Regions from separate parts of the Homo sapiens genome. Here regions 1, 2, 3 and 4 are each linked to region 5. Evidence: fine-mapped expression QTL. A gene starts in region 5. Each other region holds a variant in brackets. All regions are shown on one strand. Distances are from middle to middle.

Region 1 (5,000 bases), 54 kb after region 5:
CGGAAGAAGCCAGAAACCAACTTTTTATTTGAGAACTGTCAAATGAAAGAAAACAATCAAGCATTTGTCCTGCCGTTTCTATGTAAACTGTGCCACCAAGATACCAAATAGTAGGTGAGGTAAAGTTTCTCTTGATGTAAGTAGTCCATCAAATTACTGAAGAAGAAAATTTGAATATCAACATCTTTTGCAATCCTAGTGAATTACTGGATCTAAACATTGAGAATCAATGGCAGATAGCATTACAAAAGGGCAAAAGAAACCAGGCTGGGCTTGGTGGCTCACGACTATAATCCCAGCACTTTAGGAGGCAGAAGTGGGAGCAGAGGATGACTTGAGCCCAGGAGTTCAAGATCAGCCTGGGCAACTAAGCAAGACACTGTCTCTTTAAAAAAAAATTTACCTGGAAAAACATAAACCCACCTATGAAGTAGTATTGGCAAAAATCATCATCATCATCATCATTATTATCATCCCTAAATGTGATTCAGCCTGGAGATCCAGAAGAGTGCTTTATGTTGCAGCATGCAATCCAAATTACTGAGCACTCTCTTTTGGTGTTGAAAAAGCCAACTGCTTCTATATCTCAGAGTGAAGCAATTTTAAGTATTTGGTGACTGTGAAGCAGTAGCCTTGTTGAAGAATGTGCCCCAACTCTTTTTTTTAGTATATTCTCTTAAGAGTATTTAACTAGAAAATGGGAACAAACTCACCAGCAAAGATTAGATTAAGGGTGTTATCTTCTAAATGGTCTGAAGGTAGCTATAGGCAAGAGGGATGTAGAATGGAGAGACCAGTATGTAAATGATAAGCATATATGTTAAAAATTGTGTCCTCTGGCCAGGCTCAGTGGCTCATGCCTTTAACCCTAGCACTTTGGGAGGATCGCTTGAGGCCAGGAGTGCAAGACCAGCCTGGTCAACATAGTGAGACCCCATCTCTATTTTTAAAAAAATGAAAAAGAATCTCTCTATACATAAAATTGTGTCCTCTACTCTTCAGCCCCAGAATCTTAACAAAAAATTATGTATGGATTGAGTGAGCTCTGTGTTCAGAGGTGCTAGAGGATGCAGCCCCTCCCCTAACTTCCAAGCATCTCCCCCTACCTGCCCTGCATGTTTCTGCCCTAGTGATTCATTCTGGAAACTGCATCCTCTCCAAAGCCATGGAAGGTGTGCCTTCCTCACACTGTGTCCCTAAATAATTTTTTCTTTTAAATAAAGGAAAGAAACATTTTTTAAAAATGTCTAGATAAAGACTTTGGTTATGGTTTTTACAGTAGACCAGAAATTTTTGGACAGATACCATACCAAACATTTCTACATTCTGTAAAGCAGCAGTTTATGAACTTCAACCCTTAAAATAATCCCAGGCTCCAAATCTGCACCAGCAAGAAGTCAGTTGCAAGAGTTGTGCACCCTAAGGAAGGGCATACTCCCAAATTACACCTCAAATGTAATATTGGAAGACAACAGACCCGGCAAATCCTTTTGGCCTGATTTATGAATTTTTAAAATTCAGATATTTGATTTATCTTAAATTTGTTTTGGCAAAGGGAATGAGGTTGTTTCAACTCCATCTATTGATTATTTTCTCCCTAATTTTTGAAATACAAGCTTTATAATATATTAAAATCTCATATGATTTGGGTCTATTTCTGGACTTCATTCTTTCATTGATCTATTTATTAATATAAAACTACATTTTAAAAAATGATACTATGAGGCCACTGCATTATTGCATGATATAGAAGGAACTACTGAAAACCTTTGTCTCTGGAATTTCAAAAATCAGGGAGCTTCAAGGAATAGGAGACCTTCCTTCTGGTATTCAGCCATTAAGGTGACTAAGCTTTACCAACTCATGTTCTGGCAGATGTTTATTCCAAGATTTCAAATTCCTTGGAAGATGGTTGGCTCAGCTTAGGCCAGGTATCAATTTCAGAATCATTTATCT[A/AT]TTTTTTTTGGGGGGGGACAAGTGAATATGACTTCCAGGTGCTGAACCCTATATTTCAAAGAAACATAGTGTTGTGAGCTGAATGGTACTCCAAAAACTGTCTGCTTCACTATGCTCACCCACCCTTCTCATACACCTGAAGCTTCCCTATCTCTGCATGGTGCACCTTTCCCATACACAATTGCAGCTACCCCTTCCAATAGGAGAGGTTGCAAACTCCTGCTTCTGTATTGATCTAGAAGCAATGTCATAAGACTATACAGCTCTAAGCCAAGGATTTCCTACAGCATGCTTACTCTTCTAGTTCTGTCAAAATTTCTTTATATATTCTTCAATCCATGAACTAACTGGAAAATTTAATCATCATTAACACGTCCTAAATAACAGTGATTTTCTTTTTTTTTTTTTTTTTTTTTTTTTGAGACGGAGTCTTGCTCTGTCGCCCAGGCTGGAGTGCAGTGGCGCGATCTCGGCTCACTGCAAGCTCCGCCTCCCGGGTTCACGCCATTCTCCTGCCTCAGCCTCCCGCGTAGCTGGGACTACAGGCGCCCGCCACCACGCCCGGCTAATTTTTTGTATTTTTTTTTTAGTAGAGATGGGGTTTCACCGCGTTAGCCAGGATGGTCTCGATCTCCTGACCTCGTGATCCGCCCGCCTCGGCCTCCCAAAGTGCTGGGATTACAGACGTGAGCCACCGCGCCCGGCCAACAGTGATTTTCAAACTGGGATATGAGTACATTTACGGATGCATAAAAATGTTCCAAGGGCTACACTAGCCTGGGAACTTTTAAAGGAATCAATGTCCAGACCCCCAGCTTCAATATGGAGCCTTTCTTTCTTAAAATTGATCTGCCTGCTCTGGGTTTGAGTTAGAGGACTCTTGCCTTTCTCTGCGTTCTCATCTCCTCTTTCAAAACAGACTTTCCAAGTATACCTCTCCCCCATCCTGGATCTTACTGTGGTGCTTTACCAGAGTGTAAAACCTCAGGAGAACCAAACAACAAACTATCTTAGGTTATTGGTGTTGGGGAAGATTTCTTTAATCAAGATGCCATAAACACATGGGAAAACTTGGTGTCTTTCACTGTCTTATATATATTTCAGTTGAGGGTAAAGCATAGTATTAAAAATAATCTATTCTGAATTCAGATGTATTAGGAACTGGAGCAGCAAGATAAATGACAACTTTCATTCAACAATTTAGTCTCTTCCATTCCCTGACTCTTGTCAAAGAAGTATTTCTTCTGTGGGAAGTTCTCTTGAATGCACAGCAAAGATTATAGGCAGAATATGGAGACTCTGGTACGTTATCTTACCTAGGTGACAAACCCATAACAAAGTTCTGGGCCTAGTCTAACTTGAATACTCAAAGATTTGAAGAGACCAAGTTGGGAAATAACCATTTGCTAAGAAGAAATCTTTCTCTAATTGTACACCACTCTTGGTTAGCTTGGTGGCTACTTCCACTCCTTTGTGTCTTTGTGTGTTTCTTTTGCACGTTTTTCAAAATTTCAAGAGAAAGGAAGCAAAAAAGTTTCATGTTTACTTTTAAGAGATCCATGTTATATCGTCAAAGAAAAGGAACATATATTGAGGGTGAGTTAGTGTTTTCTCTTAACCATTTATTTAGACTGGTAGTAGAATCCTTTTTTGAGGTCTTTTAACAAAAAGCTATTGCTTATTCCAAATCCGTATTTATTTTTACTTGGAGCTAAGTCTACTGCTGACTGTGACTCATTAACCACTTCTCTGCTTATTTGTTTATTTATCATAAAATGTACTAATTAGATATATATTAACTAACTGGGCTATATTTTGAATTTTATAGCAGTAATGCACTTAGCAGTCACTGAAACACTCTTTAGATCTGCTTTGCTGGGGCCCAACACTTTCTTTTATTTTGTTGTTAATTTGCACAAAATAGAATGTTAATTTGTATAAAATTAAACTGTAGTCTTAGAAGCCATAGTTATGATAAATGTTCCCCAAATGCAATCAGGACGTAATGACCCAAATTAAATGTTTTTTATTCGATTAAGTTTAGCTCTTCTTTTGCAGATGATGACTTGCCTTTCTAATTCTGTCAAATGCATAATTACAATCTTGTTTTCAGCTGTTAAATGAAATTGCATATAGATAAATAGAATGAATATACACCTATACACATATATTTTTTCAGTATCCGTCTTCTTGTCCATCTGTTATCTTTTTAAGACACTGAGTCTATCAAATATTGAAATTTAGTATGAATATTTCTGCAGTCAATAGTTTAAAAATTATAATGTGAAATTTCCAATTTTATGGGGTTATTTTAAAATCATTTATGTACAATTTTAGCTTGAAACATAAGATACTTCTAAATAAAATAAGTGTAATTGGTAGTTATTTGATAAATATTGGTTAAGCTTTTTAGGTGTATCTTCCAGAAATTGTCTATCTAATAATTGGGTTTAAACATTTCTTTCCAAGTCAGAAAAATATCGCAAGTAAAATATTTATTGCAAAAATATCTTACTTGCAATAAAATTGAAGGAGGACCTAATAGTGTTGTCAACGATCAGATTCTTAAAAATATTTTTGGTGAAGGATTACCACTGTAATTTTTCCTAACTTCGACCGGCACTGGTCCCAGCGCCCAGGCCATCTCCCAGCGGTGGCAACATGAAGCCAGGCGGCTAGGGCGGAGGTGGCGGCCCTGATGGCGGCGAGCTGGTGGCCAACATGCTCCCAGTCGCTGGCGGCGGTGCCTGCTCCTGACCTGGGCTCCACTCCCACCCCGTGCGCCAAGCGCAGCCACCGCCGCCCACAAAAGGATTTTTCAAATGTTTTTTTCGCGGGGAAAGAAGTTTGAAGACTACTGCAATAAACAACAACAGAGAAAAAGGAAGAGGAAAGAGTATAAAGATTTTTGCTTATATCATGTGAATTATTAAAAAGAATGAAGGGAAGGGGAAATTATTCAATCTTCTGGCCCTCCGCGTACATACGAGGCAGAAGTCTGACATCTGAAGAAGATAAAGTGAGGCTAAGTACCTTCTCTTTAA
Region 2 (5,000 bases), 42 kb after region 5:
ACAGTTTTACGTGCAAGGTGTGTAAAGAAAGTAGAATGTGTCTTTGGTAAAAAAAAAATTATAAGAAAGCATAAGAATGTGCATTTTTTTCCTGCCTAGTTTATAGGGTTAAATGATTGTTTTAGGTTAGATAGAATAAAGCTGAAATTTTGAGCAAGTTGTAGAAGGTTCGTGAAAGATTAATCTTGTAAAAGAAATCCCTGGCTGGGCACAGTGGCTCACACCTGTAATCCCAACATTTTGGGAGGCTGAAGTGGGATGATTGCTTGAGCCCTGGAGTTTGAAACCAGCCTGGCAACATAGCAAGACTCTCATCTCTATTAAAAAAAAAAAAAAAAAAAGAGGAAGAAGAAGTAGAAGAAATTCTGTGTGTGAACATATTGCCTAGAGTTTAAGGGATATTCAGTTTTTCTGTAAATTGAATATTGGAATAAAAGCACAACAGGGTTTTCGTTGGAGCATTAATCTGCTCATTAACAAAAAAATTTGAAGGATTATAAAAGGTTTGTGTTTGCTGGGCGCAGTGGCTCACGCCTGTAATCCCAGCACTTTGGGAGGCTGAGGTGGGTGGATCACGAGGTCAGAAGATCGAGACCATCCTGGCTAACACGGTCAAACCCCGTCTCTACTAAAAATACAAAAAATTAGCCAGGTGTGGCGGCACATGCCTGTAGTCCCAGCTACTCGGGAGGCTGAGGCAGGAGAATGGCGTGAACCCAGGAGGTGGAGCTTGCAGTGAGCCGAGGTCGCGCCACTGCACTCCAGCCTGGGTGACAGAGCGAGACTCCGTCTCAAAAAATAAATAAATAAAAATAAAAGGTTTGTGAGAATGTTACCTAATGGTCAAACTATTTAAAATTGAATAGATTTGCCTATAAGGCTTTATTAAGAATTGGGTTTGACATTAATAGTACACTAATGCAAAGGTGAAATTTGGCTTTCTCTCTTGAACAATATTTTCATGTAATGTTGAGAGATAATACAAAATTTGTGTTTGCCTTTTGAATAAACTACAGGAAAATGAAGGGAGAGAAAAGAGACAAATTGTTTGGAAAGCTAAGGCTTCCTTCTATCAATGAGTAAAGGGTTTTGCCTTTGTTTTTGTTTGTTTTTTTTTTTTTTTTTTTTTGAGATGGAGACGCTCTGTCGCCCAGGCTGGAGTGCAGTGGCGCAGTCTCGGCTCACTGCAAGCTCCGCCTCCTGGGTTCACGCCATTCTCCTGCCTCAGCCTCCTGAGTAGCTGGGACTACAGGCTCCTGCCACCACGCCTGGCTGATTTTTTGTATTTTTAGTGGAGACTGGGTTTCACTGTGTTGGCCAAGATGGATTAGATCTCCTGACCTTGTGATCCGCCCGCCTCAGCCTCCCAAACTGCTGGGATTACAGGTGTGAGCCACCGTGCCTGGCCAGGGTTTTGCCTTTAAAAAATCTTTGAGTTATTATTTTGTCTAAATAAATGACTTGAGATTCTATTTTTTAATGTCAAGTGTTTTAAACCTTTGATATTTAACAAACATCCCAAAATCAAATTCTAAATATAGTCATTTTGTGACCTGATTAATCCTTCTAGATATTAGTTCCCAAAAGTCCAAAAATGATGTATTTTGCTTATTTGATATATTAAGGTCACACAGAAAGCATAGTCAAATATAAAATAATATTTGTCTTTCTTTGGGCTGTATTTGTATAAATGTATTATTGGTATGTGTTCCAAAATTATGCAAAACTCCTATAATTCTAATATGATTTAGTGTACATTATCAGTAATAAAATAATAATTGTTATGCTAAATTATTGTGTGCCACAGAAGTAACCAAATTTTTTCATCAATTGTGTCTTTGACTGTGGCTGCCCTAAGACTCTTAGTCATCCGTAGACAATTGTCTTGTTTTAATCCTTTTCAAAAGGCAGTTTATCATCAGCTGTAGGACTCTGATGAGTACTCTTAAATGCAGGTCTCTGATAAGTATGAAAAATGTGCCATTAAAATATAGAGAAAAAAACCTTCCAAGACTCTCTTGGAAAATGAATGTATTCATAAATATCAAGCAAAACAGGAATTAATTGCATAGACTGAACTAATAAAAGACAAAATTATCTTTTTATGACTTTTTGTTTAAAACATTGCTGATTCTGTTTTGTTTTT[T/C]AGAGTCAAGAAAATTTTTCTTTTGATCTATTTATAGCTTTTGACAATTGAGTAAAGTATAATCCAATTAAGAGCATATTTCTTTCTCTCTACCCAATTCCTCCAAAATTTATGAGTATTCATTTGTAAACCAAAAAGTATCTGAGGCAAGTCTCAATCAACTTAGAAGTTCATTTTGCCAAGGTTAAGGACATGCCCATGTACGGCCTTTGGTGCTCAAGGTGGTCAGGCTACAACTTGGTTTTATGCATTTTAGGGAAACGTAAGACATCAATCAATACAAGTAAGATGTACATTGGTTTGCTTCAGAAGGGCAGGACAACCAGAAGCAGGAGTTTCCAGGTAATAGGCAGATTTAAATATTTCCGAATTGGCAGTTGGTTGAGTTACTGTCTAAAGACCTGGAATCAATAGAAAGGAATGTCTGAGTTACAATAAGGGGTTGTGGAGACAAAGGTTTTATCATGTGGACGAAACCTCCAGGTAGCATGCTTCAGAGAGAATAGATTGTAAATGTTTCCTATTAGACTTAATTAGTCTCTTCTACGAGTCTTAAGGTCTATGTTGATATTAATGATAATGAGGCAAGTCTGACTCCCACTTCCCATCATGGCGTGAACTAGTTTTTCAGGTTAACATTGGAATGCCCTTGGCTGAGAGGAGGGGTCAGTTCAGATGGTTGAGGGACTTATCATTTTATTTTTGGTTTACACTTAACTTATCAAGTGCAATAAGAATCTGTTTTCTTTTATAAGAGGACACAATTGGAGACACTGGTTAGTTTACCAAGGCTTTGACTAGAAGGCCATGCCTTCAAATATGAACAGACTGCTATAAGGATTCAAAGTTGACTTATAGGGCCAATAAAAGACTCTGGGGAAAAACTGGCCTCATATCTTGTCTATACAGTCCCTGTACAGGGTTCCTGACCTGTGGTAAGTAAAGAATGTCACTTTCTTACTGGCCCAGGAGCCCCAAGTTATCTTGGGACCTCAAGAAGAGAGAAATTGACCTAACCCATACGGGTATTTTCAAGCACAAATCCATGGCTAGACTCAAGGTTTTGAAAGGTCTATCTGAGATTTTGTATGAAACAAAGTTTCATCAAAGGCAATTTAAAAAGGAGCCTATATGGCAAATAATTATTCTTGTTGCACTTTATGAAAATAATCAGGTCAAGTATAATATGACTAAAGGTTATTTTGCAAACAAATCAGTCCTACCTTGATTTGTTTTTAATAAAAATGATGACTGGAAAGAGATAAATTATGTTTCAAAAACTGTGGTACACCTGTTGTTAAATTCTAGTCTTGTCCATTGTTTTTGTGTATTTTTCTGAAATGTAGACTGACCCTGCTTATTCCTTTGATCTCTGCCAGCTGCGTAGAAGAAACGAGGGATGGGTAATGTAAAAATCTGTATCAGTATTCTAACTCTGAGCATATATTGAAATTGGCTAGCAACCCCATATCAGCTTGGTGCCCAATTCATGGAAAGCCTTCTCATTTAGTTTACTTGGGATACTTATTTTATTTACTGTTGTTGAGTATATTGCTGTCGTACTCTTTAAGTAAGAATGCAAGATAAGCTTACTCAACATTTTCTATAATTGAACACTTATTGTCTTCCAGATATTTCCTTTTGTCAGGACCCAGAGTTATGAATGGCCATCACTATACTGATGCTTCCTGACTGAGCTCCTTTCTACCCTAAATACAAGAGAACCTAAGAGTTAGGCAGGAATATTATCACCTCTACACAGCCCAAAGAAGCTATAGAAAAATGAATTTTTGTCCTTCTGCAACTCTTAGGATTAAGTATCCCCTTGGAAAAGGGAGGGGAGAATATGTCAGTGGTGTTTAATCCAGAGCAACCCCTTCTTGAATAGGGGATGGGTAAAATACGGCTGAGACCTGCTGGACTGCCTTTCTATGAGGTTAGGCATTCTTAGTCAAAGGATATTTGTGGTTAAGGGAACAGATTAATAATGTTTACTGAACAGACCCAGGACTTAACAGACCCAGGAAATGTCCTGATGTTACAATATCTTAAGAACAAAAGCATTCTTAGTTTAAGAATAAGTTTTGCTTTAAAATAATAATATACATTCTTGTGGAAGACAGTAGTTACACAAAGATTAACCATTCTTTGTCACAAGCCCTTGTAGTAGAGTATATCTCATCATTTTTTGTTTTATTATCTTGTAAACAAGCATTGTACCTAAAGTGGACATGTTCTTCCTCTTGCTTTCAGGACTGCCCCGCTCTATCTATGGAGTAGCTATACTTCTATTCCTTTACTTTCTTAATAAACTTGCTTATACTTTACTCTGTGGACTCACCCTGAATTCTTTCTTGCGTGAGAGCCAAGAACCTTCTTTCGGGGTCTGGATCAGGACCCCTTTCTGGAAACAAAATGAGTAGTACTTTTTTTTTTTTTACAGCTTTATTGAAGTATAATTGATATAAAATAAAAAACTGTGCATGTTTAGTATGTACAATTTGGTGAGTCTGACATTTGCATGTGCATGTGGTTTTGGAGAGGGATGAAAATGGGTGGTAGGGCAAAGGTTTCTATTCACCCAGCTCACTTTATTTATTTTTCTTACCCTCCTAGATACTGTAGATATTTCAGTTTGTGGTCCCTGCTGTTGAGCAATCTGAGCTCTGTGAGATATGCAGATAATGTCTCCAGAGAGCCATTAGCATGGGTCTTCAGCCATGCCTCCCCATCCATGCCACGAGGGAATTGTTTAAAGTCATTTTGTTCCTGATTAGCTGCCTCACTCATTATCTTCCTGTTCCTGGAATTTGTGGCACAAAGAACAATGTATAGCCAATCAGTAGCTAATACT
Region 3 (6,348 bases), 28 kb before region 5:
AACATTTTTTCTAATATGTAAATTTGCTGATCCTTAGTAATGTTAATGCTTTGTCTATTTGTTATTTTTACCACTGTTGAACAGCAAACTGTTGAGGCTAGGGTTGATTATTGATAATTTTTATGTGTTTAGTAATAACCACAGCATCATACGTACAACTGCTTTAATAAATCCAAGTTAAGGACTTTGAGGAGAGCATGTAGCAAGTATTCATTTTAACAAATCATCACAGACAGTTTCCCTGTTCAAAGCTCCACCAAAAAGCAAGCATGCAGCAAAGGCATAGACTGTATTTAGAGATGTGGTTTCATTTATTCTTGAAGTCCTATAACCTTGCATTATTTAAACACAAAATCCCACCTAACATTTGCCAAATCCAAGTTAATCTCAAAAACCTCCGAGGACATTGAGCACAAGCAGATTACTGTAAGGGCACTGGTGGCAGATTGTGGTGGAGAGAGGGCTGAGTGACCCAGAGCAAAGCCTGCCCGGGTTACTCGCTGCCACTTCAGGAGAGGGATTGTATCAGCTCTCATTACCTTTTGTCATGAGGCAGTTCATAAATTAAATATGATATCATGCATTATCTCAAAATATTTCTATATTAATTAGATAATTCACGATGTAAAACGTGTTCATGCAGAAGCAAAGGCGGATGTAATAGTCAAGTATCAGGGAAAAACCCCTTTAGGATACCCAGACATTAAAAATGTAAAAAGTAGCTTATAAGAAATGTGGATTATCAGATTTTTACTATATATAGGTTGTGTTTAATAGTAATTTCTGACACCTGCACATAGATGAAGAAAAGGCAGTTGTTACCACTTTTCACCATTCAAAAAATGGGCTTGTCTCTTAGAGTATTGGTTAATGCTTTGCTTATTTGTTAATGAAGACAGCATTTTAATTTTAAAGCTTCCTTTTGTAGGACTGATGGCACGGGCAGAATCACATTTAAGAAAAATGGTTTGGAACACTTTTTAATAAAAAATTGTAAAATCAGTTTCCAGTGTGGTCAAAATTAGAATGTAAAGGAAAGCATTTTTAAGAAAATACAGAAGCCCAAATCAAGGGAGAGTAATATAAAAGGAAATATTTTAAATTAAGAAAAGGAGGTGTTATAGTTTATTACATCATGAATTATGCTTTCTGTACTTACGCTCTTAGTGAAGGAGATAACATTGAAGTGAGAAAATGAACATTCTCAGTTATTTGCGAAGTTAGTAAAATTGCAGTCCCTATTCCATTTTTTTCTGATGAAAATGGATACATGAGATCTCATTTATTGCTCTCCTCAACACCTTTACTGTCCCAGATTCCATTCACGTTCCAAATCGTGGACAGTAAAACTGAAGTCAGATAAACACAGTCACAGGTACAACTGGGAGCGAGTTTTAACATAGTGGTAATTTTGCAAATGCCAACATGAATACTAGTGAGTACTCAATTTACGACAGACAATTTCACAAAAACCAACCACAGAGTGATTTGATATTCTTGCTTCTTAGAGAGTTTTCTAATCCATATAATGCAATGGGTCAGGTTGCTCATATGATTAAAAAAATTAATCCTGTAGAAATGATGTATTAGACATCTCTAACCCAAGAAAAAGATGTCTTTTGTATAACTTTTAAATTCCCATTTGTCTATCTTAGGACAAATGATGACTTCTTCGTGTAGTAATGAAAACGTCTAAATCCTGCTCTGTGGAGAAAAGCTAGAACCATGGGACATTAAGCAAGAATACTCCTCTGATTTAGGCTCCCAGACTACAACTAACAGTCTTTATGTATTTATCATCTTGGTTATTGTTTTATCTCAAGCATATACAGTGTGCAGAAAGTAGAATAATGAATAAAATATGACCATGGAGAAAACCCATAACTTTTGCTTCTATTATAGAAAGCAGTGTTTGTTCTTTTTAATTTATTACATGTTCACATTGAAACATTAACATCTACAATATTGTCTTTCAGTTTACTCTTCAATTACTAAAGCAAATGATTTTGATTTATAGCACTTACACAACTGCAGTTCAGGTCACAGAATTGAAATCTATTTGATAATGTCTCAGCATTCTCATGGGCAGCCAGGAAAAAAAAAAAGAGAGAGAAAGACAAATAGAAATTTTAGTGGGTTCAGATAAATGATTATTCTGACAAACCTGGAAAATAGTAATTAAACAGTTCATTCCAAAAGACCCCAATGTAAACTCTGCTCACATACATAATTTGTATAAGGAAAATGTATGAGTTTTTTTCTTAAAAATAAATAGAAGCATCATTGCATTTATAACAGATTGATCAATCTTATGAACAGATTACATTGGGAAAGTCACTATTATTGCTGTGTGTTTGTATATTTTATTCTTTCCTTTTTTGTGTGAGCATCTACTATGTGCCAGGCAGTGACTGTGTCTGAGTGAATGTATCCATGGTGAGCACTCAGGCGCCATCACTGCCTTCTTGGGGCTTACACCCTATTGGGGTGTCAGAGATATTATAACACTCAATATTGACCCAATGGGATGAAAATTGTTATCTTCATGATTTCTTCCAATGGGCTTAGATTTGTTGGGACAGGGCAGAATTAGAATAATTATTTCTCACATATAAGAGTAAGTGATATGAGATTGGGAATTTCTTGCCAACACTCAAGCAAACTGCAGAAGATAATTACTCCATTTTACTAGCTCACCTAGTTTCTGAAGGATGGGGTGGGGAGTGAGACATGGAGCCTCTGGGGACAAGGATAGGGGGGTGGGACTGTCCCAGTGGAGGGTGCCACTGGAAGCCTCCACCCAAGTGGGCCAGCAGCTGTGCAAGGGTGCAGCAGTAGGCTGGTGAAAGCCAGGTTGTCCAGATCTTTCTAGGGGAAGAGAAGGATTATAGAAAAGGAGAAAAGGGAGGAGCAAGAACATCTCTCCATGGCCTATTTTTATTTTTGTTCCCAAGAGACTAGTGTAATAACCTTATGCCCCCAAAGACAGCCCAGAACTGAGTATCTTCAGTGTTCCTGAGTGTAAATCAGTGAATCTGTTATATAGAAAGTTAACATTTCAGGAGCACAATTATTTCCTGATTTCAAATATGAACAGAAGACTAAATGTCATTTTTTTAAATCATAAATTTGGTATCCATAGTTACTTTACAC[A/C]TTCCAGAGTCTAAGCATGGAATTTAAGTTTTGTATTTTGAACAAAAATAGCAACATCTGTTTTCTGTATGGCAAAGAAAAACTAAATCCCAGACTTTTATTTTTAACCACAGAAACCATCACTTCTTTCTAAATTATTTGCTTGCCTGCTCATTTCCCCTAAACATCTCTGTTTATGCCAATGGCTTTTTAAATCCAAATAATACTAGTTATTGCCAAATTGCATTAGAATCCTATTGAATTAGAATAATTCATATACTTCATATACTAGGCAGTAAATGGTTAGAGACGGTAAAGATCTGATTGTGATCAAAAGTAGGGTTTTTGTTTTGTTTTTAATCATGAGCACATATAAAAGGAAATTCAAATGAAACCAAGCCAATTTCTGATTTAGTAAGATTAAAACCATAGATGGAGCTCAGTTATTAAGGATGGAAAGGAGGAAAGCACAGAGTGAGGAGAGAAAAAGGGGAAGGAAAAAAAGTAGTGTTTTTTTGGGGAACAGTATAATGTCTCAGAAGTTCTTCTCTCTTATCCTGCTGATGTTGAGACAGTGGCTTTGTATAAGCTTTTATTTATACCTATTTCAACATCATGAAAATTTTTCCATCAGCATTTTCTTGCAACTTTAAAAATCACAAGGGATTATTTGTTTATAAAGAGATACAGGATCTATAATTTATTGGCAATACTTTATTTTAGGAATCTTCAAATTGTACTTAATAAATAAATCACAGGTCAAAATGACTGTAAAATCAATCAGGCTTTCTCGTAAGTTATTTCCTGAAAACCATCCATGATAAATACAACAAGGCTTGGCGAAACCTCATTACTCTTGGAAGTCTTCAGAGGTTATTATACCTACTGATCTGTATTTGTCTCTAAGAGACATTTGAAACACAGTTACAATGTCAATTTGGTGTAACATTACCTGTAGTAGAGCTCAGAGTATATGGCAGTGCACGGTCACTCAAGATGCATGGCGTGTCATTTGGGTCGCTTTGATGGGTGCTCGGGTAGAATTAGCCTTGTAGAGACTAATGTGTTCATGCTATCTCTGATCCTGTGGTGTTGTATAAAAATGAACAGCTAAAAATTTACCCATGACAAGATTAAAGCAAAAATAAACACAAAGTTGTTAGACTTTAAACATGAGACTGCTGGTATTCTTTTAAGTTAAACTCATTTTCCATTCTAACATCTGTTCTTGAATTTTATAATTTCTCTATGCTTTTGAGTTGGAGTAGCTTGAGCTAGGGTTCTATGTGGAAAGCAAAGAAACAATTCATGGGTAGAGGATAAGACCAAAGCCTAACAGAAGCAAGAGGCAGGAGGTTTTGAGACTTTGGTGCTTTCATTTGGAATGGGAATAAGCCTGGCTCTGGTTCAAAACAAGGCAATTTATAAACATATATACAATGTATGCAACAAAAAATGTTTATTGTAAACCTAACACAACTTTTACCCAGCTTTATAGTAACACATCGACAAAGTTTATATAGTAATTACTATAAGGTAACAAGGGTTACATTATACACAGATGTAGGCTCCAGCAACACAGCATGATGCACCTCTGAGAAAAGTGTTCAGAACAGAATATCCATCTGCAAAGGTTTTCACTCAATGCAGGAAGAAATACTGTAAAATTTGGAGACAGAATGAAATAGAGGTAAACTCTCTCCAGGATTCTAGACTCTGAAGAGTGGGTAGTACTCATGGCTTAGGCCATATTGTAGTAACACGGTGACTTGGACTAACCATGTAGATGGAGTTCGTGGATTAGACAATTCTCAGAATTTTCTAGAAAAAGTTGGGGCCAGACATAGTGGCTCTCACCTGTAATACCTATACTTTGGGAGGCCAAAGCAGAAGGATCACTTGAGCTCAGGAGTTTGAGACCAGCCTGGTCAACACAGTGAGACCCCATCTCTTAAAAAGAATAATTTTTTTTAAAAAAAAAGGGGAAAGAAAAGGAGTTTGTTACGCAGACGAAACAATTGCCTACTCTACCTGCTTTCAAATTCAAGTCTGATAAATATAAAAGTTCATTTCTACCTATAAAATGCTTTTTTAAAAAATTATCTTGTTTATATGCTAAGGTTCACTAAAGGAGAAAAAAAAGGAAGTGCAAAAGTTTTAAAGGTACATATAAAAAGGGATTCACTACAAAAGTGAAGTTAAATTTCTCTCCTAATCCTACTATTCATTGAGCTATGAGATAGAGTGAACTATCACTTGATTTGTGAACACCAAATTAACCTCTACCTATAGTTTTTCAACTGTTCTTCTCCTGAAACCGTGAAAGACTTTTTAAAATAAATCAATCACAGCAGCCTTGAGGGATGGGAGAACTGCAAGATCTGTGTCCAGAGAAACAGTCATTGCAATGTGAATTTACCAGAAGTCAGAAATTTTCCACCTTTTCATTTGTGAAGAGGGCAGAGTGAATGTTGTTAACATCAGGCCCAGAACCTACTTTGTGCCAGGTTCATAAAGTAAACCTTCCCTGATGCTGTTCAGTGAGTAAGCAGTAAAAGGCAAGCAAATGTGACCCTGTCCTCTCTCCTCGTTCAAATGGGAAGACCTGGCTCCATATTGTGATGGCTTCATTAGTGAGAGATGTGTACACTCTTCAGGTTTGTAACCAGGATGCTGTGCCCCTTTCCGTGCTCCCAGCAGATAGGAATTCAGACTCTGCTGCCTGAAATGGAAGGTAATCACCTATTGAGGAGCAAGGAAGAGAGGAACAGAAGGCATTTTTTAATTTCCGCTATCCCCAATCCATCAGTGTGGGCTGCTCACTCAGGCTGGGATCCATTCTCCAACAAGATGCATCCCAGAGCATGGAGCTCCTGTGTCACGGACAAGCTGCTTTCTATCTGCCTCATAGGAAATTGGGTTTATCTCTTCACTTCGGCCCCGCTCATCATTGGCGCTGACCCTCAGGAAGAGGAAAACTGTTTCGTATGTTCCTAAACTTTGGATGCCCTCAGCTGTAACAGACCACTGCACCCACCATGGTGGTGAACTCACATATGCAGGGGCAAGAAGTCTGTGGTCACAGGGTTGGTTCAGTGGCTCAATGATGCCATCAAGAGCCAGGGTCTCCACCTCAGCCACTGCCCTGGCCTTTAGGCTGTTCTCATGGGACCCACACGGTTGCTTCAGATACTATCATTGCAGACACAACATCTG
Region 4 (5,592 bases), 170 kb after region 5:
TTGCGGGCAGGATGGCTCTCTTGGGGGGAGGGGACCAGGTTAGTTAACCTCTAGTGATGTTGACTCAAAGCCTTTGTCATTTAATATATGCTGAATAAATTCCAGCAGGGCCAGTTAATCAGGGTCTCGGCTGCTACAACTCTTTTGGTCAGTGGCCTCACCCCCTAAGCCCACTCTTTCACTGAATATCAGTGTCTGAGTACGTTATTCATCTGTTGTGCAGCTGGGGTCTGTGAGATGGACCCTGGCAGAGATCTGGACATCCAAATACAAGAAGCCGAAAGAACACTTGGGAAGTTCATCACAAAAAGATCATTACCTAGGCACATAGTCATCGGATTATCTAAAGTAAAAACGAAGGAAACAGTCATAAGAGCTGTGAGGCAAAAGCATCAGGTAACCTATAAAGGAAAACCTATCAGATTAACAGCAGATTTCTCAGCAGGAACCCTCCAAGCTAGAAGGGATTGTGTTCCTATCTTTAGCCTCCTTAAACAAAACAATTATCAGCCAAGAATTTTGTATCCAGCAAAACTAAGCCTCATAAATGAAGGAAAGATACAGTCCTTTTCAGGCAAAAAAATGCTGAGAGAATTTGCCACTACCAAGCCGGCACTACAAGAACTGTTAAAAGGAGCTCTACATCTCTACATCTTGAAACAAATCCTCAAAATACACCAAAATAGAATGTTCTTAGAGGATAATTGTCACATGACCTATAAAACAATAACACTATTACAAAAAAAAAGGTATTCGGGCAACCGCTAGCACCATGAATAGAATAGTACCTCATCTCAAGACTAATGCTGGATGGAAATTGCCTAAATGCTCCACTTTTTTTTGAGACAGAGTTTCGCTCTTGTTGCCCAGGCTGGAGTGCAATGGCACGATCTCAGCTCACTGCAACCTCCACCTCCCTGGCTCACGTGATTCTCCTGCCTCTGCCTCCCAAGTAGCTGGGATTACAGGCATGTACCACCACGCCTGGCTAATTTTGTATTTTTAGAAGAGACGGGGTTTCTCCATGTTAGGCTGGTCTCAAACTCCTGATGTCAGGTGATCTGCCCACCTCGGCCTCCCAAAGTGCTGGGATTACAGGCGTCAGCCACCGCACCTGGCCAAATGCTCCATTTAAAAGATATAGAATGGCAGAATGGATAAGAATTCACCAATTAAGTATCTGCTATGTTCAAGACACTCTCCTAACACACAAGGACTCACATAAACTTAAGGTAAAGAGGTGGGAATAGACATTCCATGCAAATGAACACCAAAAGTGAACAGGAGTAGCTATTCTTATATCAGACAAAACAGATTTTAAAGTGACAATATCTCAAAAAGACAAAGAGGGTCATTATGTAATGATAAGAGTCTAGTCCAATAGGAATATATGACAATCCTAAATATATATGCACCTAACACTGGAGCTCCCAAATTTATAAAACAATTACTACTAGACCTAAGAAATGAGATAGATGGCAACTCAATAATAGTGGGGAACTTTAATACTCTACTGACAGTACTAGACAGGTAATCAAGACAGAAGGTCAACAAAGAAACAACAGACTTAAACTATACTCTAGAACCAATGGACTTAACAGATATTTACAGAATATTCTACCCAGCAACTGCAGAATATACATTCTGTTTATAAGCACATGGAACATTCTCCAAGATAGACCATATGATAGGCCACAAGAAAAGTCTCAATAAATTTAAGGAAATTGAAATTATATGAAGTACTTTCTCAGACCACAGTGGAATAAAATTGAAAATCAACTCTGAAAGGAACCTGCAAAACCATGCAAATATATGGAAATTAAATAATTTGCTCCTGAATGATCATTGGGTCAACAATGAAATCAAGATGGAAATTAAGAAGTTTCTTTGAATTAAACGATAATAGTGATACAACCTATTAAAACCTTGGGGATACAGCAAAAGCAGTGATAAGAGGAAAATTCATAGCATTAAATGCCTACATCAAAAAGTCTGAAAGAGCGCAAATGGGCAATCCAAGGTCACACCTCAAGGAACTAGAGAAACAAGAATAAATCAAACCCAAACCCAGAAGAAGAGAAGAAATAACAAAGATCAGAGCAAAACTAAATGAAATTGAAACAAAAAACAAATACAAAAGGTAAATGAAACAAAAAGCTAGTTCTTTGAAAAGATAAACAAAATTGATAGACCATTACAAGATTAACCAAGAAAAGAGAAGATCCAAATAAACTCAATTAGAAACAAAATGGAAGCTATTACAACTGATACCACAGAAATACAAAAGATCATACAAGGCTACTATGAACTCCTTTATGCACACAAACTAGGAAACCTAGAGGAGATTGATAAACTCCTAGAAAAATACAACCCTTCTAGATTAAACCAGGAAGAAATAGAAACTCTAAAACTCTGTTTAGAGTTGAAAAAAAATTCGCAAAGTTTTTTTTTTTTTAATTTTTTGAGACAC[G/A]GTCTTGCTGTGTCATCCAGGCTGGAGTGAAGTGGCACAGCCTGGCTCACTGCAATGTCCGCATCCCAAGTTCAAATGATTCTCATGCCTCAGCCTTCCAAGTAGCTGGGATTGCAGGTGCATACCACCATGCCCTGCTAATTTTTGTATTTTTAGTAGAGATGGGGTTTCACCATGTTGGCCAGGCTGGTCTCAAACTCCTGACCTCAGGTGATTTGCCTGCCTTGGCCTTCCAAAGTGCTGGGATTACGGGCATGAGCCACTGCACCTGGCCATGCCAACAATTTAATTTTTTTTTCAAGATGGAGTCTTGCTCTGTCGCCCAGACTGGAGTGCAATGGTGTGATCTCAGTTCACTGCAACCTCTGCCTCTTGGGTTGAAGTGATTCTTCTGCCTCAGCCTCCTGAGTAGCTGGGATTACAGTCACATGCCACCACGCCCGGCGAATTTTTTGTATTTTTAGTAGATATGGAGTTTCACTATGTTGGCCAGGCTGGTCTCGAACTTCTGACCTCGTGATCCACCTGCCTTGACGTCCCATAGTGCTGGGATTACAGGTGTGAGCCTGGCTGACAACAAGTTTTTTAGCGAAAATTTGCCTAAAATTTTTTAGTAAAAAATTTTTTTGCAGCAAGATTGAAATGGCAATTAAAAAAACACCAAAAAGAAAAAAAGTCCAGGATTAGCAGATTCATAGCTGAATTCTATCAGACATTCAAAGAAGAATCAGTACCAATCTTGTTGACACTATTCCAAAAGATAAAGAGGGAATCTTCCCCAAATCAAACTAGGAAGCCAGTATCACCCTAATAGCAAAACGATGAAAGGACATAACCAAAAAAGAAAACTACAGACCAATATTCCTGATGAACATAGATGCAAAAAATCTCGACAAAATACTAGCTAACCAAATCCAACAGCATAAAGATAATCTACCATGATCAAGTGGATTTCATACAAGGCATGCAGGGATGGTTTAACATATGCAAGCCAATGAATGTGATACACCACATAAACAGAATTAAAAACAAAAATTACATGATCATTTCAATAGATGCAGAAAAAGCATTTGACAAAATCCAGCATCCCTTTATGATTAAAAACCTTAGCAAAATCGGCATAGAAAGGGCACACCTTAAAGTAATAAAAACCACCTATGACAAACCCACAGCCAACATTATACTGAATGGGGAAGAGTTGAGTGCATTCCCCCTGAGAATTAGAACAAGACAAGGATGCTCACTTTCACTGCTTCTATTTAACATAGTACTGGAAGTCCTAGCCAGAGAAATCAGACCAAAGGAAGAAATAAAGGGCATCCAAATCAGTAAAGAGGAAATCTAACTGTCGCTGTTCATAGATGATAAGATCGTATACATAGAAAACCCAAAGGACTCATCCAAAAAGCTTCTGGAACTGATAGACGAATTCAGTAAAGTTTCGGGATACAAAATCAATGTACATAAATCAGTAGCACTGCTATACACCAATAGCGACCAAGCTGAGAAACAAATCAAGAACTCAACCCCTTTTGTAATAGCTGCAAAAACAAACAAACAAACAAAGAAAAAAAAAACCTAGGCATATACCTAACCAAGGAAGTGAAAGATCTGTATAAGGTAAACTGCAAAACACTGCTGAAAGAAATCGTAGATTACACAAACAAGTGGAAACACATCCCATGCTCGTGAATGGGTAGAGTCAATATTATGAAAATGACCATACTGCCAAAAGCAATTTACAAATTCAATGCAATTTCCATGAAAATACCATCATCATTCTTCACAAAACTAGAAAACACAATCTTAAAGTTCATATGGACCAAAAAAGACCTGCATAGCCAAAGGAAGACTAAGCAAAAAGAACAAATCTGGAGGCATCACATTATCCAACTTCAAACTATACTTATAAGGCTATAGTCACCAAAACAGCATAAGTACTGACATAAAAATAGGCACATAGACCAATTAAACAGACTAGAGAATCCATAAATAAAGCCAAATACTTACGGCCAACTGATCTTCAACAAAGCAAACAAAAACATAAATTGGGGGAAGGACACCGTGTATTAGTCAGGGTTCTCTAGAGGGACAGAACTAACAGTATATATGTACATATGAAAGAGAGTTTATTAAGGAGAGTTGACTCACATCATCACAAGGTGAAGTCCCACTATAGGCTGTCTACGAGTTGAGAAGCTAGGAAGCCACTCCGAGTCCCAAAGCCTCAAAAGTAAGGAAGCTGACAGTGCAGCCTTCAGTCTGTGGCTGAAGGCCGAAGAGCCCCTGGCAAACCACTGGTGTAAGTCCAAAAGTCCAAAAGCTGAAGAACTTGGAGTCTGATGTACAAGGGCAGGAAGCATCCAGCAAGGGAGAAAGGTGAAAATTGGAAGACTCAGCAAGTCTGTTCATTCCACCTTCTTCTGCCTGCTTTATCTTGCTGTGCAGGCAGCCGGGGGGATGGTGCCCATCCAGATTAAGGGTGAGTCTGCCTCTCCCAGTCCACTGACTCAAATGTTAATCTCCTCTAGCAACACCCTCACAGACACACCCAGAAACAACTTTGCATCCTTCAATCCAATCAAGTTGACACTTAATATTAACCAACACAACACGCTATTCAACAAATAGTGTTGGGATAATTGGCAAGCTACGTGTAGAGGAATGAAATTGGATCCTCATATCTCACCTTATACAAAATTCAACTCAGGATGCATCAAAGACTCAAATCTAAGACCTGAAACCATAAAAATTCTAGAAGATAATGTCAGAAAAACCCTTCTAGACATGGGCTTAGGCAAAGAGTTAATGACCAAGAACCCAAAAGCAAATGCAACAAAAACAAAGATAAATTGATGTGACTTAATTAAACTAAAAACCTTCTGCACAGCAAAAGAAATAATCAGCATAGTAAACAGACAACCTACAGAGTGGGGGAAAATCTTTGCAAACTATGCATCTGACAAAGGACTAATATCCAGAATCTACAAGGAACTCAAACAAATCAGCAAGAAAAAAAGCAAACAATCCCATCAAAAAGTAGGCTAAGGACATGAATAGACAATTCTCAAAAGAAGATATACAATGGCCAACAAACATGTACAAAATGCTCAACATCACTA
Region 5 (5,000 bases):
AAAAAATATATTATCCAAAATGGCTTAGTAGAGCTTCACTCTTGAATTTCTTCAAATCCTCTGATGAAAGAATCGTACTAGAATATACAACAAACTTCGTGGCTGCATCAACGATACTTAAAACCTTGTAAAGGGCATTATTATGGGCATTTTTAACCAATTAGGATAATTTATAAGTTAAAAGTAGATGAACTTACCTGTGGAATTCCAGATGAAATTAAAGCTTAAGTTTTTTGTTGTTTTCTGTATTCCATGCTTAATTAAAACACTCAGATCTGTTGTGAACTACTGAACAGAAGAACAGAAAAAAATATATATGAGTCATAACATTAGGAATTATGACATCTAAAATCAATGTTGTATACTTAGCAAGTTGTTTTTGGAGCCATTTATTACATATCAACACTTTTTTCATTTTTGGAAAAGCCTTGATCCTCTCTTCTCGCTTTCAAATCACCTCATGCTCTAATCTGAAATTATACTTGGACACTGTTTTTTTGTTTTTTGTTTGTTTTGGAGATGGAGTCTCACTCTGTTGCCCAGGCTGGAGTGCAATGGCACAATCTCGGCTCACTGCAACCTCTGCCTCCCGGGTTCGAGCAATTCTCCTGCCTCAGCCCCCCGAGGAACTGGGATTTCAGGTGTGTGCCACCACACCCAGCTAATTTTGTATATTTAGTAGAGACGGGGTTTCACCACGTTGGCCAAGCCGATCTCGAACTCCCGACCTGAGGTGATCTGCCCGCCTCGGCCTCCCAAAGTGCTGGAATTACTGGCGTGAGCCACCGCGCCCGGCCTGGATGCTGTTTTGACAACAGTGTTTATTTTCAGGTCTGGAGTTATCCAATGGCCATTCATTTGAACGAACATTTTAGTCTATGAGGGGAAAAAAGTCATAGTCTCTTATCTGTTAGTAATAAACGATTCTGTTCTCCAGACTGATACGCGTTCAGTAATTTGTGCTTTTATCAGGCATCGACACATGCATACTAAGAGCACAAATTCAGCGCCCTTCTTTTGCTTAAGCCTCCTGGGAGAAGCTAAAAAACTTGTTCCCAGTTGAACACTGCAAACCCAAATTTTCCTTACCTCTGAAAACAGAAAAAAAGACATGGTTTGGCAATTTCTTCCTTGATAGCTTTTCCCACAACGCAGCCACCTCCTAAACGCAGGCAATCTGTGCAAAACGCAGAGGAAACAAAATCATGAAAGCCCTGCAAATCTCCCTCCTAAATCCAACATTAAGAAGGCGAACGGATACTGAATTCAAAGACTACCCGTACTTGAGGATGGCATCATTCCTTACTGCTTGGAAAAGTGAGACTCCGTTGCACCTCTAGGAATCTTTTTAAAACGCCCTGTATGTTCCTTAACACTGCCTGTAGGAATCCTGTAGCCCTAGCCCCGTGGGATTTCCTTCTCTCTCCGCCCGTTCTCCACATTCCCCACTTAGTTTCACATTCCTTCCCAATCCCTCCGACATCCCTGCGCCGGGGCCCTTCCCTAGCGCTCCGGGAAAGCGTTCGCCGCAGGCCTGTTAGGGGCCCACCAATACCGTAACACCGTTCCCGTCCTCTTCCTCGGCACCGCTGCAAACGCCCCGGGTCGCTACCCGGATTTGACGGTGGCTGGAGCGGCACGGGCGACGCAAGGCAGGTATTGCACCCTGGGGCAAGGCAAGGTGGACAACCAGCGGATGCGGCGCGGCCGCGGCCTGGGCCTGGGCCCTCCGCGTCGCCCACTGCCCCACTGGGCCCCTTCTCCCGCGCTCACCGGAGGCGGGCAGCTGCTCGTCACCGAGACCCGAGACCCACGGTGCGGCGGCTCAACCTGGGCCACGCTCCGCTCTAGAGGAGTGGGCGGTGCCTCCCGGCCTAGCTGCCGGGGTCTAGGCGTTTCCGAGGACGGCGCGTTCCGGGAAAGGCGGGTCCGGTGGCTATACCCTCCACCCAGTGGCAGGACTCAACCGCCTCGGAGACCCTGCAGGGCCGCCCTTCTCACTCACCTCCTGTGCTCGGCGCGCACCCAGCTCGGAAGCGGGAAGGTGGCCGGCGTTCTCTCCCTGCGCACACACGCAGCCTCCCCGCATCCGCACGCACGGCCGGGCGCGCGCAGACCACGCGCCAGGGCCGCGGCCGGAAGCCCCTGGCTGCACGCGCGGGCCCAGGCGGCCCCCAGCCCTGTGAGCTCGCATGGCGCGCCCTCTGGGTCCTCGCGGTCACCTTGCATTCCGAGCACGGCCGTGTTATGTATGCCTTTAGTTGATGCTGGCCAAAATTAGACAACTTAGTGGCAGACGTCGAGCTAGAATTTTTGTTTGAGATCCTTTTTCCCTGGTCGTCTTTCCAAACTGCGTGAGTGCATGGCCTCGAGGCGGCCCTGGAGGGATTTTCTTGTTAAACTTCATACAGAACTAATTAGGAAAGAGGAAATCTTAGGAGGAGTTCTTTGCTGTCTCAGAAGAAATGCCAGTTCTTCTTCCGGAATCGATGGGGAATGGAATGGGGGTAAGAGAGACACGTCAGGTTTCAATGGCCTGTGTATGGATGGGAGTCCCAGGGAGTTGCTTTTGTACACCTGAGCATAGCTGACCTAAACTCCCAGATCCATCTCCTCAAACTCCTTTTACCAAGATGTGCAGTATTGATTGTACTGGTCCTTTCCTCAAAATCAAGTGGGTCTGGATCATGTATTTAACCACTACCAAGCTCAGCCATGAGCACCACCCCTGATTGTAACCCACACATTTGCATCAAGACTAAACGTGGCCCACCATTTCTTTTTGTTTACTGACTCTTTGGCCTGACTGCTTCTTCCTTATAGCCTTTTTCTGCAAAATTACTTAGGATAGTTTGAAGGTTCTCTGAAAATAATAGGGGTGAATATAGAGATCAAAATGGATATACAACAAAAGTAAGTTTAGATAGTAGCAGTGTAAGTCAAGGACTTAGTTGACACTGCATAAATAATCAGATCTAAATTATAATAATCAGATCTAAATTATGGTTGAGATTGTTTTCCTGGTTCCAGCCTTGGCAGGTAGCTGTGTCCTTTGCAGAGGGTAAAGTGATTGCTGCCCTGCTGCACGCCTTTATCACAGCCATTCTTCACCCTACCTGGGCTGACAGTTCACCTCACTAAGTCAAGGAGGTCCATTAATAACAAAACCAGACAGGTTTCACTGCAGATAGATTAATATGCTGAAAAAATAGACCTCTTATTTGGAAGAATGCTTTAGGGCATTAATACTATATTTTACAAATTCCGTTTCTTAAAATTTTAGAAAAGTTGTATTTCAATACTCATTTTTAAAATGTTTTGAATGTCCTTTGAGTAACCAGCAGGTATATGTGCTCATAGCTGCCAAAACTTCCCTGGAATGCAAAGCAGAGCCATGGACAACAGATTGGGGTAAGAAATTCTCCTAAATGAAGTAAGTGAGACAAAAAGGCCCAAAACCTTTATGAGATTATTTCCTTTGAAGCAGTCTCCTTTTTCTTTGTGTAGCATTTATCAGCTTGTGATTGAGTCATCTATTGCTGCAGATCGAACTCTCCCAAAATATAGTTGCTTGCAAAAATGTCAATTTAATATTTCTCATAATTCTGAAGGTTGGTTATGTGGTTCCTCTCTGGTTTTGATTTGGCTCACTCGTATAGATACATTCAGCTGTAGCAGGGGTTGGCCAAGTTTTCTGTAAAACAGGATCAGATAGTAAATATTTTAGACTTTGTCTCTGTCACATATTCTTTTTTATTTAATTTTTATAAACTATTAAAAACCCAAAGCTATTCATAGCTCAAGGGCCATACAGAAGCAGGCTATGGCCTACAGGCTGTAGTTTGCTGATCCCTGAACTGGAGAATCAGCTAAGCTGAAAGTCCAAGGTGGCCTCACTCATGTGTCTGCTGTTGGCTCCATGTGGCCTCTTATCCTGCAGTAGGCTATGTTTTTGGTCTGTGGGCAACATCCAGAAGAGAGCAGGCAGAAGCTGTAAAATTTCTTAAGGCCTAGACTTGGGAGTCACACAAGATCATATATGCCAAATTCTACAAATCAAAGCAAATTGTGAGGCCTCTCCAAATCCAAGGGGCAGGCAAATAGTCTCTGCCTCTTGATGGAAGGAGCTGCAGATAATGTGGCCAGAACTAGCTAAACTAAGTGGCAGGAACCTTATTCTTGAAAGTAAATCATCAAACTTCAAATTTATGATATCTGATGGCAGCTATTGTTCTTACTCACTTCTCTCCCCAAACTACCCAAACCTGTTTATAATTCTGTGAGCACTCACTTGCCTCAGAACTTGTTTACAGATGTCTCTGCCATGAGATTATCAGCAACCTGAGGGAAGAGACAGGCCCTACCGCACTGCCTTGCTGTAATATATCTTCAATAGATATATATGGAATTTAGCTGAATAGCCTTACTGAGGTTTAAAGTCAGGTTATTTGCTTACTTCACAAAAGCAAAATAAATTTAAGTATCCTGCACTATCTACAAATTCCAGAAGAAAAGCACACATCAAAGAGTTATATGTCACACTCACATACCATCTGACCAATAAGATGGAAACCTTCCTAGCAATTTTCCGAACATATAATCAAGAGTTAGGAAGCCATATGCCTAATGATAAGTTTGAACTAGCAGTCACCTTTAAGGCTATATTACATTTTAACCTTAAATTTGTCTGCAGATGAAAATTGAAATGTAACAACAGTTCTTTCGTAATATGTGCTATATATGTTTCAAGGCAGATGTGGTTCTGGGCAGGGTTTCTAATCTACAGGAAATGCTTCTACTAATTGTTCAGTTGAATTTTTCAATATGTGCCTTCTCCAAAATCTGACTGTGACTGTCTTCTTCCACTTGATGGAAAGCTTTGACAATTTATTATGCTTAGAAGCAGCTGGGGTGTATTTCTAATTGATGATTTGTTATATTTCTTACTTGACTATCCACATCTTTCATTCTCTTCAGCATTTTCCTCCAGCACTTCCTGT

Alleles and levels. Alleles are on the strand shown, and positions count from the first base shown. SD is a standard deviation of normalised expression in the study named. Not every link is listed here.
For the expression in CD4 T cells of the gene that starts at base 2,120 in region 5, AT is the low allele of the variant in region 1 and A is the other (moderate effect, 0.53 SD a copy in CEDAR).

What was found. PIP is the estimated chance that this variant, and not a neighbour inherited with it, causes the effect. A credible set is the group of variants that fine-mapping cannot tell apart.
Region 1: its variant is the best candidate, but not a certain one, in a credible set for the expression of B3GALNT1 in CD4 T cells (CEDAR, PIP 0.84).
Region 2: its variant is the best candidate, but not a certain one, in a credible set for the expression of B3GALNT1 in T cells (TOPMed, PIP 0.54).
Region 3: its variant is the best candidate, but not a certain one, in a credible set for the expression of B3GALNT1 in tibial artery (GTEx, PIP 0.50).
Region 4: its variant is the best candidate, but not a certain one, in a credible set for the expression of B3GALNT1 in whole blood (TOPMed, PIP 0.73).

The regions. Positions count from the first base shown.
Region 1 is chr3:161,157,143-161,162,142 of GRCh38, forward strand. All of the region lies in intron 1 of LOC124906300 (a long non-coding RNA gene), which reads left to right. Among named protein-coding and RNA genes, the nearest start is that of B3GALNT1, 54 kb to the left of the region's middle. The variant A/AT (reference allele first, on the strand shown) is at 1,957.
Region 2 is chr3:161,144,931-161,149,930 of GRCh38, forward strand. LOC124906300 (a long non-coding RNA gene) reads left to right here and starts at 2,182. Exons shown (of 3, transcript XR_007096148.1): 1 at 2,182-5,000. The variant T/C (reference allele first, on the strand shown) is at 2,147.
Region 3 is chr3:161,074,600-161,080,947 of GRCh38, forward strand. It overlaps PPM1L (protein phosphatase, Mg2+/Mn2+ dependent 1L), which reads left to right. Exons shown (of 4, transcript NM_139245.4): 4 at 1-4,303. Among named protein-coding and RNA genes, the nearest start is that of B3GALNT1, 28 kb to the right of the region's middle. The variant A/C (reference allele first, on the strand shown) is at 3,154.
Region 4 is chr3:161,277,661-161,283,252 of GRCh38, forward strand. The region is part of intron 1 of LOC105374187 (a long non-coding RNA gene); the gene reads left to right. Among named protein-coding and RNA genes, the nearest start is that of NMD3, 59 kb to the left of the region's middle. The variant G/A (reference allele first, on the strand shown) is at 2,471.
Region 5 is chr3:161,103,230-161,108,229 of GRCh38, forward strand. B3GALNT1 (beta-1,3-N-acetylgalactosaminyltransferase 1 (Globoside blood group)) reads right to left here and starts at 2,120. Exons shown (of 5, transcript NM_003781.4): 1 at 2,006-2,120; 2 at 1,090-1,177; 3 at 198-288. LOC124909453 (a long non-coding RNA gene) reads left to right here and starts at 1,452. Exons shown (of 2, transcript XR_007096147.1): 1 at 1,452-1,656; 2 at 3,342-5,000. RefSeq lists silencers at 1,675-1,924, 1,935-2,024.